Regions from separate parts of the Homo sapiens genome. Here region 1 is linked to region 2. Evidence: fine-mapped expression QTL. A gene starts in region 2. The other region holds a variant in brackets. All regions are shown on one strand. Distances are from middle to middle.

Evidence for each region.
Region 1: its variant is fine-mapped to the expression of SPTLC1 in visceral fat (GTEx, PIP above 0.99). The same link has a PIP of 0.9 or more in whole blood.

Annotation. Positions count from the first base shown.
Region 1 is chr9:91,946,556-91,951,931 of GRCh38, forward strand. ROR2 (receptor tyrosine kinase like orphan receptor 2) reads right to left here and starts at 3,673. Exons shown (of 9, transcript NM_004560.4): 1 at 3,312-3,673. The coding sequence starts at 3,408. RefSeq lists enhancers at 2,464-2,965, 2,966-3,465 and silencers at 3,659-3,838, 3,952-4,246. The variant T/G (reference allele first, on the strand shown) is at 2,179.
Region 2 is chr9:92,112,780-92,118,101 of GRCh38, forward strand. It overlaps SPTLC1 (serine palmitoyltransferase long chain base subunit 1), which reads right to left and starts at 2,634. Exons shown (of 15, transcript NM_006415.4): 1 at 2,535-2,634. The coding sequence starts at 2,591. RefSeq lists an enhancer at 3,137-3,196.

The DNA of each region.
Region 1 (5,376 bases), 170 kb before region 2:
TTTAGAAGATGGTTATAAACCCTGGGAAGGAGTAACAGTTTGTAGCGTTAACTTTCTTTTCCCTGACTACAATGTGGAATTATATAATTAGAACTCTCCAAGGGAAAGGATTACAAAGAGTACACAAATTTCCAGCACTACAACAGACTAGCCAGGTCCTGCAGATTAGGGAGCTCAAGTCCTTCACATCCAGTTCCCATTTCACTAATAACTTTTCCCATCCTGGCCTCTCAGGGAATGCATTTTAAAGGAGTGCCAGTCCACCAGCTGAAACCTTTCTAAAGGGGATTAATCTTCCCTACCTGTCAGATGAGCTGTTCGTACCCCTGTATTTCTATTCCACTGATTTCAGAAGAGCTTCCAAAGAAAAGAGCAGTGTAAAATTCAGACTCTGCCAGACTTAATCTCTTGGAGGTTAAATCCAGGCTAACTGTTTAAGGGGCAACAAGTGATTCACTGCAAACCACACTTAAGAGAGAGACATACAAACACCAATTACAGCAGCACTTTGAATAAACAATAAAAAAAAGGTTTCACAATAAAAATAAAAATGTTGTTTAACATTGCCTTAAAAATCTGCAGAGCAGTCACCAAAAACTACCCCTGGAAAACGCACATTTTAAAAAACCCATGTTGCTTTTTTACATATAAAATATAAAGCAGACTTGTCAGTTTTCCATGATTTGCTTTACTAATTAAAAGTTCAGCTTGGCTTTCCAGAGCCCTCTCAGTTACACTGAGTGTCACATAGGGTCCACGGCGATCAGATTTTCAGGGTGACATGCTTTATGAAGTGGACATGAGAGTTAAGCAGGATCTCACAATTATACTGAAAAATTTCAAATGTGTAGCTCTGTGCTTGGTACACAGCCGTAATAAGAAAAATATGTTGCCTTACTATATACATAAAAACTTTTCTTTTTCCACAAAGTCTTCTTATTCAAGATGTTTCCATTTATTTTCTTCTAGATGGATTTCTTCTAGACGGATCACTATCATTATTTATTACCACCATCACTCCAGGGATCTGGGCCAAAAGTAAACACTACACTGCCAAAAATGGGGGCTGGGGGGACCCTAATGCTCCATCGTTCCCCACCTACCCTACCTAGGATTGGTATATAGTCCCAAATCAGTATTTGTCATCAGAGGAAACAGAGTCTTGCTATTAAAATGTGGAATAAGAACTTACAAATCCTTTTAGAAAAACCCCTAAATAGTTTTACATAATAAATTATTTCGTGGATAAAACACACTCAAATAACAGGGACTCCTCTTTTCACAGCAGAAAAGATCCCAAACACTCAAATCTCCTGTAATCATATAATTTTATTATTATTTTGAATAAAAATTATCATACTCTTTGGATTTTGTTAACCTAGCCATACAGAACGAAGAGAATTATATCCTATGCCCTCTCCTATAAAGATTATGAGTATTTCACTAGAAAAAGAACAGGGTTCAAAAATTAAAGAAAACGACTCCAATTGCTTTGTTCATATAAGACATTTGTACATTCACTGGAAACTATGAGTGTTTAAATTCCTTCACCCAAAACTCAAGGAACTTTCCTGTTACAACCACCTTGGCTTAAGCAATGGACCCATCATGCTTTCCTCATCACCCATCTAAAAACCCCCACCACAGCACCGCCCCTCAAAGGCTGCGCTCAACCCTCATGGTCTGCAAGGCAGAGTTTTTGTAGGACAATTAACCGCAGGGTGAACAGCAAAAGCCGCCCAACAGCACGTCCAGCAACGTGTTTAAGCCGCCTCCCCGCCACCCCTCTCCCCCAGCAAAGGGATCTCCTGGGAGATTCTTGGGGGAGGGGTTGCAGAAATCGACAGAGGTCTTGAGTGATGGATACCAACTTAGAATGTGGTCTACTTATTTTATTGTGCACTCTGAGCGGTTTATGCTTTAATGCACAGTGAGATAAACGCAAGCTCCCTTCCCAAATCAAGTAATTAGGAATGTCTGACGTAATCAACATCTGCTTAAACTAAAACCCCCCCCCAGGAAAGACTGTGCAGCCTTTCTGACTCGCGTACCTTGGGCCGGCTAGGGCGGCAGGCCAGGATACCTGGAGCGCGCAGCTCCCAGCAGGACGCAGGAAAAGCAGAGCGTCTCCCAGCCTGCGACTGTCCCGATTCTCACCTTCCTGCAGGAGTGCAGGGA[T/G]GGGGGATACTGAAGCCCATTTACTAGTAAGAAGTGTCTCACACATTCCGGGGGCTTCAGGCGAACCCCATAGGTCTCTGGCGCTCCTGGGCCTGAAGGCCCCGCCCGCCCTCCTCCACCCCCGCAGGGTGCCGAGAATCCGGCCCGAGGCGCGCGGGCGGGAGGTGCTCCCGGAGTCTGCACCGCCAGAGCTAACGCCGCCTCCTCCAGGCAACCTAGGCAGGTCCCAAGCTGCACTTCCGAACCTCCCCGCCGTTCCTCTGCGCCCCGGATCCAAGCAGCCGAAACCGCGCAGGGACTCGGGGGAAGTGGGGCCCCGGGAGGAAACCCACCTAGGAGCCGGGCCCCGCCCCTCCCGCCGCCAGCCTCCTACAGGTCCCGGGGGTCCCCCCGGCGCGGCCAGAAGGCGGCCGCGCCCCAGCCGCTCAGGGACCCGCGATCCCAGTCACAAACCATTTCAATCCAGATCACACACCACTTCGGCCACCCCAGAGCGGTGGGGGAGAGGAGGTTTCAGGGACCAACAAAAGGGATGCCAAAGAGCCCGTTTCCATCAAGCGGCCCGCGGGCTGGGAAAGTCAGGACCCGGGAGCCGCCGGCGCCCCCACCCCCGCCGCAAGAGCCGCTTCTCCGGGGCCACGTCCACCCCAGGATTCTGCCAGGCATCAGGCCGCCCTGGGGGTGGGGGGACGCTCCGAGACAGACGGGGGACACTCGGGGCCGTGTGCCCTTGAAGGAGGAAGACCTCGGGGAGGAAGCCCGGGTCCTGGGACCCTCGGGGCACATCTGCGGACTCGGGTCCCGGGCCCAGGGCGGGTACTCACATTCACACTCGCACTCCCACTCGCGACCCTCGGGAAGCGCCACCGAGAGGCTCCCAGCCGCCGCCGCCCGCCCCCAGACTCTGGAAACACTTAGGCGTCCCCAGAGCGCGGCTTATTGTAACCAGCCCGAGGGGGTCCGGGGTGCGGGCCGGGAGCGGCGTCGGGCGAGATGCGAATGGCCCTGCCTGGCGCCCCTCGTTCAGGAGCATGGGCGCCGGCGCAGCGGCCGGGAGCATAGTGGCGGCGGAAGGGCTGGCCAAGCGAGCCGTGAGCTACCGTCTGCGCACAAGCCGGAACGCCAGATCCTACCTGAAGTCCGGGACACTGAGAGCAGAAGCGCGGCGGCCGCCCAGACGGCCGGGATGCACAGCAGCGGCCGCCGCGGGAGCGCCGAGCCCCGGGCCATGCCGCAGGCAGTGGGGGCCGGGAAGCCCTCAGAGCTTCGGGCCGGGGCGCGGGGTCGGGCGCCACCACCCCTTTCTACGATGCGTCCGCTCCTCCTTCTCCCTGGCGCTTCGCAAACGGGTCCACTTCGAGGACCTCGTCGTCGTCCTCTTCTCCGGCCCGGATGCGCCGCTCGGCTCCGGCCACGGCAAGGGCTGGCTGGGGAGGTTCCTTGGCGCGGGCTGGGGCGTCCCGCCGGCCGCCAGGACGAGCGCGGGGGGCGGACCGCGGGCGAGCGCGCAGGAGGCAGGGTCCCCGCTCGCCCGCCCCGATGGGCAGAGCGAGGCTTGCGCCGGCGCCCCCTGCCGGGGGAACGCGCGGGCGGCGGGCGGGACCCAAGGAGCTGGGGCTGCAGCTGGGGCCCCGGACCTGCCTCCTGCGCCCGCCCTCGGGCCTGCGCCTCGGAACGCTTGAACACAAAGGTGGCGCCTTGGGGGCGTCAGCCGGAGTTCGGCGGGTCTGCCCACGCAGGAGAGGCGCCCAGAGCGGGTGCCCCCGACTTTCGGGGGCGACACACCCGGGGATCTAGGTCACAAATCAGTAACTCCAGGCTGCACTGCGCACCGGGACAAATCTGAGAGCCACCCAGCCCCAGACACCAGCGGTGAGGCAGGAAGAGGAGAAGCGAAAGTTGCAAAAGGAAATGTTCAGGAAAACAAACAGGCCGCCTTGGCACCGGCGCCCTCCCAGGTCGGTGGGGACAAGCGCGTCCCCCGAAATGCTCAAAACTGCCAGGGGTCGAGCTGCGTGGAGGGAGCCCTCGGGAGCGCGATGCTATCCGAAGCCACCGCGGCTTTTGGTTTACTGTTAAAAGCAAATTGTATAATTTTACCCATTAAAGGCAGAACACTATTTGTTCTCTGCAGAGGCCCAGAATGTGCAGAATTTGCTTCACTTATTAGAGACATTTTGAACGGAATTCAAATAGCATGTTTTCTTGCTTATTCTTGGTTTTGCTCAGCACATGCAAATGTCTTTGTTTTTCCTCTTAGAGGAAGGAATTGGATTCTCCAGCATCTCAGTTGCTTGTTCCATGAGATTGATCTTTTAACTGATTATCCAGCAGTTTGTTTGGTGTTTTTGCTGGAGTACCAAGCTCTGTTAATTGGAGGGCATTAGGGAGAGCCCTGGCCTTGGGTGCCAGACGTGAGGCCTCAGACGTGGCCAGAAATAAAAACTCTCTTGCTATGGTCTGCGGACAAAATGACTAAGCCAGCTCTAGCTTGTTACCTCTGTTAAAAGTATTTAGGCGTCCGGCTATCTCTACCCAATTTGTGTAGGGAAATATCTCACGCAGTTCTCATTCCCAGGAGCTGCTGTAAATCCAGTAGGAGAATGGGAGAAGATCCTAGCCCCTCCTCAACTGGATGGCAAAATTATTACCAAACTTCTTAGACGGGCTCAGGCTGTTCCTCTGCCCAGGCTGGTGCGGGTCTGAACGGGGGGGCTGCTCTCCCCAGTGGTTAGAGGACTGCCAGGGGTTTATCTTTGGGGTTTTCCTCCCTTTAGCTTCCCTTAGAATCCTTAAGGATGCTTTTAGAGTAATGTTTTAAGAGTAGGTGCTGAAGCACTTAGTTCCACACCCCTCTCTTCTGGATCTAGGGAAAACCCAACAGGGGCTGCAGAGAAGGGTCTTGAACCTGCCCTGGAAAACCCCTCCCTCAGCAATGCTGTGTCCTTTCCGTGGTGCTGTGCAGCTCGGAGAAGGTGGTCCCAGCACCTTTGCTTTCCACTTCACACAGCGTGAGCATGTGGCTCCAGAACCATTTCATCAGCAGCCCTGCCATTTATTTTTGTGTGACCTTCAGGAAAATGACCTCATCATGCCCCCATCTGTGTGTTATTTTCACATGACTGAGGCCCCACAAACCCAACTCAAAGGTTTAAACAGCAACATATATTTTGCTGACAGTTTCTTGGGTGGAGTCAG
Region 2 (5,322 bases):
AAAACTTCTTTGGGAATAAAAATTAAAATTAAAAAAATAAAATCTAGGCCAGGCGTGGTGGCTCATACTTGTAATCCCAGCACTTTGGGAGGCCAAGGTGGGCAGATCACCTGAGGGCGGGAGTTTGAGACCAGCCTGACCAACATGGAGAAACCCTGTCTCTATTAAAAATACAAAATTAGCTGGGTCTGGTGGCGCATACCTGTAATCCCAGCTACTTGGGAGGCTGAGGCAGGAGAATCGCTTGAACCCAGGAGGTGGAGGTTGTGGTGAGCCGAGATCACACCACTGCACTCCAGCCTGGGCAACAGGAGCAAAACTCCGTCTCAAATAAATAAATAAATAAAATCTAACACAGAATCCCAATATTAACCATCGGATTATTTAATTTCAGTGGTTCTTTTTTGGGTACACTATACAAGACTACTCAAATTCTACATTCAACACGCATAGGATTTGGGAGTAAGAAGTTTATGATGAATTTTAAAATTTGCTCATCCCCCTAAATACAATTCATTTATGAATAAGTCTAAATACCCTTTTAGTTTTCTCAATAGTTGGATTCTAGCAAGCAAACATCTGCCCCAGCCACTAGTTAAGAGCCCACTCCAAAAAGAAATCACCCTAAGAAAAGCTGAGAAACTCTCTCTCTAGTGAATTAATAAAAATCACAAACACCACTTCTTTTCCTTCCCAGGAAATGTTACATACAGGAGTTCTCCCAAGTCTCACTGTTGGACAGTTTCGGGGAATGAGAAGTTACACTACTGTCAGTCTTCAAAAAGGGAGCAAACAACATTTAACAGAAAATAATCCATTTCTTTAAAAAATCATTTATAAAAAAGATCATTCAATTTTAGTGGCTCATTTTAGGTCACTACAGTTAACCTAATACTGGGCATCACTTAATACATGAGCATAAGACAGAGCCACATCTGCTGTCTCTGCTGTTTCAAGATAAAATTCCCAGTATGTCCTGCAATGGAAGACACTGTCATTACCCCTACCAGTAGACGGTGATATTAAGTTTGGTGATATTAAATCATCAAAAGTAAAGTGAAATTCACTTGAAATGAATGTAAGCTCTTTAAGCACAGGGACTTCTGCCTATTTGTTCACCGCACTATCCCTAGCATCTAGATCTGTGTGGTCCAATGTGGACAGTCACTAAGTTACACGTGGCTATTTAAGTTAAATTAAAAATTCAGTTGCAGCTGGGTGTGGTAGCTCATGCCTGTAATCCCAGCACTTTGGGAGGCCAAAGCAGGAGGATTACTTGAGGCCAGGAGTTCGAGGCCAGGCTGGGCAACACAGCAAGCCCCCGTCTCTATTAAAAAAAAAAAAAGATTAGTTGGGCATGGTGGTATGTGGTCCCAGCTACTCGGGAGTCTGAGGTGGGAGGATCGCTTGAGTCTGGGAGGTCAACGCAGCAGTGAGCTGATCGCACCACTGCACTCTAGCCTGGGCGACAGAGTGAAACCCTGTCTTTAAAAAATAAAATAAAATAAAATAAGTTCTTCAGTGCCCAATGAATAGCTCTGCAAGACAGCACGGGGACTCTCAGTTATTAAATGAATGAACACTAAGATTGACATTCTGGTTTCTTATTATCTTATGTATCTGAAATAACTAGGCTTCAAAAAACTCTTAACTATTCTTCCTTTAAAAGTCTACGGCCAGGTGCAGTGGCTCAAGCCTATAATCCCAGCACTTTGGGAGGCCAAGGCGGGCGGATCACCTGAGGTCGGGAGTTCGAGACCAGCCTGACCAACATGCAGAAACCCCGTCTCTAATAAAAATACAAAATTGGCCGGGCATGGTGGCACATGCCTGTAATCTCAGCTACCTGGGAAGCTGAGGCAGGAGAATCGCTTAAACCCGGGAGGCGGAGGTTGTAGTGAGCCGAGATCACGCCCTTGCACTCCAGCTTGAGCAACAAGTGCGAAACACCGTCTCAAAAAAAAAAAACAAAAATAAATAAATAAAAATCGACTAAACTAGTTGTATCTTTATAAGACAGAAAACTGATGTACGCAGAAGAATGACAAACTATTTTTTATTCACAAATCCTAAGTCACTTGATTTCTTTTCGACAAAAACAAACTCCAATTTATTACAATTTTATTCCCCAACGAACTGTACCGTAGTTCCAAAGAGCTGACTTCCTTAGGACCTTCCCAGACGAAGGTGTTCCACTCATTTTCACCACTCCGTTTTATCGTCCGTCTAAACTCTGGTTTTTGCAGACCTGTCTCCTGCGTCCCCTTACACGTGTTCCTTTCCGGAGCTTCCAGGGGACCCGGAGCATAAGAATTCAAACCGAGACCCTCAGTCCCAGCCCCCGCCCCCGCCCGTTCCTCCCTACACTCAACCGCTGGGACTAGAAGCTCCCGGCAGTCCTTCCAGCAAGAGGCACCGAGTCTGGGCGTGACCGAGCCAGTCCCGCCGAGGTCTCAGGCCACAAATCCACACGCGTCCTCCCACCCTCCCCGGGCCCGGGTGTGGTCGCGGACCGCTAATGGCGCGGAGCCCACCTCGTAAAGCGCCTGTACCATCTCCACCAGAACCCACTGCTCCGTGGCGGTCGCCATAGTTAGCCGCTTCCTTCCGGAAGGCGGGTCACAAGCGCGTCCCAAAAGTGCGCGTCGCTGCTCAGTGTCGTTATCACCTCCGCAGAGGGCGGGGCGGCGGAGCGCTGGGCACCGCCTACTCGCACTTGCGCACTGGTTGACAGGAGGCTGGACGGGGTCAGGTGGGATGCCGCAGTTTTTCCAAGAATTGTTTACCTTGTGTCCTATTACCCTCCCTGCTGGATTCAGGATGGAGAAAGTAGTAATGAACGGGCCTTACACTTGGTCATCAGCTGGGCGCAGAGAGTTAAAATGATTGCAATACGTTTACTTTATTTTTTTTTTTTTGAGACGGAGTTTCGCTTTTGTTGCCCAGGCTGTAGTGCAATGGCGTGATCTCGGTTCACCGCAACCTCCGCCTCCCGGGTTCAAGCGATTCTCCTGCCCCAGCCTCCCGAGTAGCCGGGATTACAGGCGTGGGCTACCACGCCTGGCTAATTTTGTATTTTTAGTAGAGACGGGGTTTCTCCATGTTGGTCAGGCTGGTCTCAAACTCCTGACCTCAGGTGATCCGCCTGCCTCGGCCTCCCAAAGTGCTGGGATTAGAGGCGTGAGCCACCGCGCCTGGCCAATACGTTTACGTTTAGTAGCATAAGTAATCCAGCAATGCATTATCATTAAGAAATGCATAATTATACACAAAAATAGCCAACCCATATAGCACTTCCTGTTTTGTCAGACATAGGCCAAGGCTTTGCAGGTATTAAATCATATAGCAGTTTGGTAAAGAACCTTTTAGAGCCTTCCAATGCATATGCAAACAGTATGCACGCGCACATACTTAATTGGATTGGATTTCTTAAATATAATTGAGATCATAGGGACAAGACTTTTCTACAACTTTTTTTAAATTTTTTTTCTAGCATTTTTTTCCTAATATATCTCATATTTAATGGCTGAAGACTTCCATGGAATAATTTATGTATATTCATCGTTCCATTTTATGTAAACGTTTCCCTATTGGTGAATACTTATGTTGTTCCCACCTTTCCCCTATTACAAATAATGCTGCCATAACTGTCGATGTTCCTTGTGTGTATATCTTTCTGTGCATGTTGGAGTTTTTCTGACCAGTTTTTTCAACATGGGATATATCTGAAGACTATGCACGTTATTAATTTTGATAAGTACTGCCAAAATGGCTCAACCAATTAAAATAATTTGGAAGTTTTTCTATGCTCTAGTCCATGATGGATATTATCAATCTTTTAAAAAAATTTGCCAGTTTAATGGAGATAAAATGATACCTCACTATCCTTTATTATTGATGCTTCTGGTTACTCATGAGGTTGTGCAGCTTCTTATATGTTTATTGGCATTTATAGACTGTATGAATCGCCAATTCATATTCTTAATCCATTTTTCTATTGGTTATTTTTGCCTTCTTATGGATTTGTAGGAACTCTATACATTCTGAATATCTTATATTTTTCTGTTTCATATGTGAAAAATATTTTTGCTCAGTTGCCGCCTAGTTGTTTCTGCTCTTTCATCATACTTTAATTTTAAATTTTATGTAGTGCTTCAGTCTGTTTTTTGCCTCTGGATCTGCATATTGCTTAGAAAGGCCTTCTTCACCACATCTATGGTTTCCAACCATTCTTGCAGCAGTTTGTTGTTATTTGCAATTAGCTCTTTACTCTGGAAACTATATTTTTGGATAATGAGAGTTAAGGGACTTAATTATGTTTTTTTCTAAAGGAATAACAATTTTTTGAGTGCCATTTATTTGAGTAACCCTGACTTTCCCCAGAATTCTGAAATGGTACCAGTGCTATTGATACAGGAGCCAAAAAGAAATTATTTAGGCAGATAGTGAAGGTAAGAGAGTCCTCAGCAGAGCTTCTTTCTGAACAAAAAGCAACCCCAAAATTATTTCTTTTTTGCAAAGAGCAGCCTGAAAAATTGAGCTACAAACATAGATAAGCAAGCTGGCAGTGCACGGGAGAATGCTGGCAGTTGTGCCGATAGAAAAAGACTACCTGGAAGCCAGGTATGTTCAATATGGAGACTCCATCTTCCATTTTCTTTGTCACCACGTGTACAGTGAAGGAACAGGCAACATGGCATCAGTCAGGTAGAGAAGCCATCTGCAGAATAAAATATTAGGGTGGGAAGGCCAGCTTCTTCATGCACTATGCAAATGGCACACCTGGTCCAACCAGTCTTTCATTCCCTACGTAAATCAAACGCCACTTCCTCAAGCTCATCTATAAAACCCTGTGCGTTTCACCGCAGAACTGGCAACCCATTTTCTCTGGGACCCCTTTCTCTGCACAGATAGCTCTTCTCTTTCGTTTGCCTATTAAACTTCTGCTCTTAACCTCACTGTGGTGTGTCGCGTCCTAGTTTTCCATGGCTGTGGGACAATGAACCTCAGGTATTACCCCAGATAATGATGCCGCTACACTATGTGCTACATTTCCACATAAGCTGGCGATATGGAGTCCGTGTCAGTGCTCTGCTCACAGTCCTGTGCTTGCGTGCATTTCCTCCCCCGGGTGCTTTCCTTCCAGCAGCCACGCCTGCATTTCTCAGAGGACCCCCTTGAAGGCTGCCATTCCCACGTTTCCTGCTCTCCTGGAGAGTTGGAAGTATCTGAGAATGTATCTTCTCCTGGGCAGTACTTACCAGTGTGGATTACTGATGGTAGCTGGGATATAAATATTGCAGCTTCCTTGCCCTACTTAGC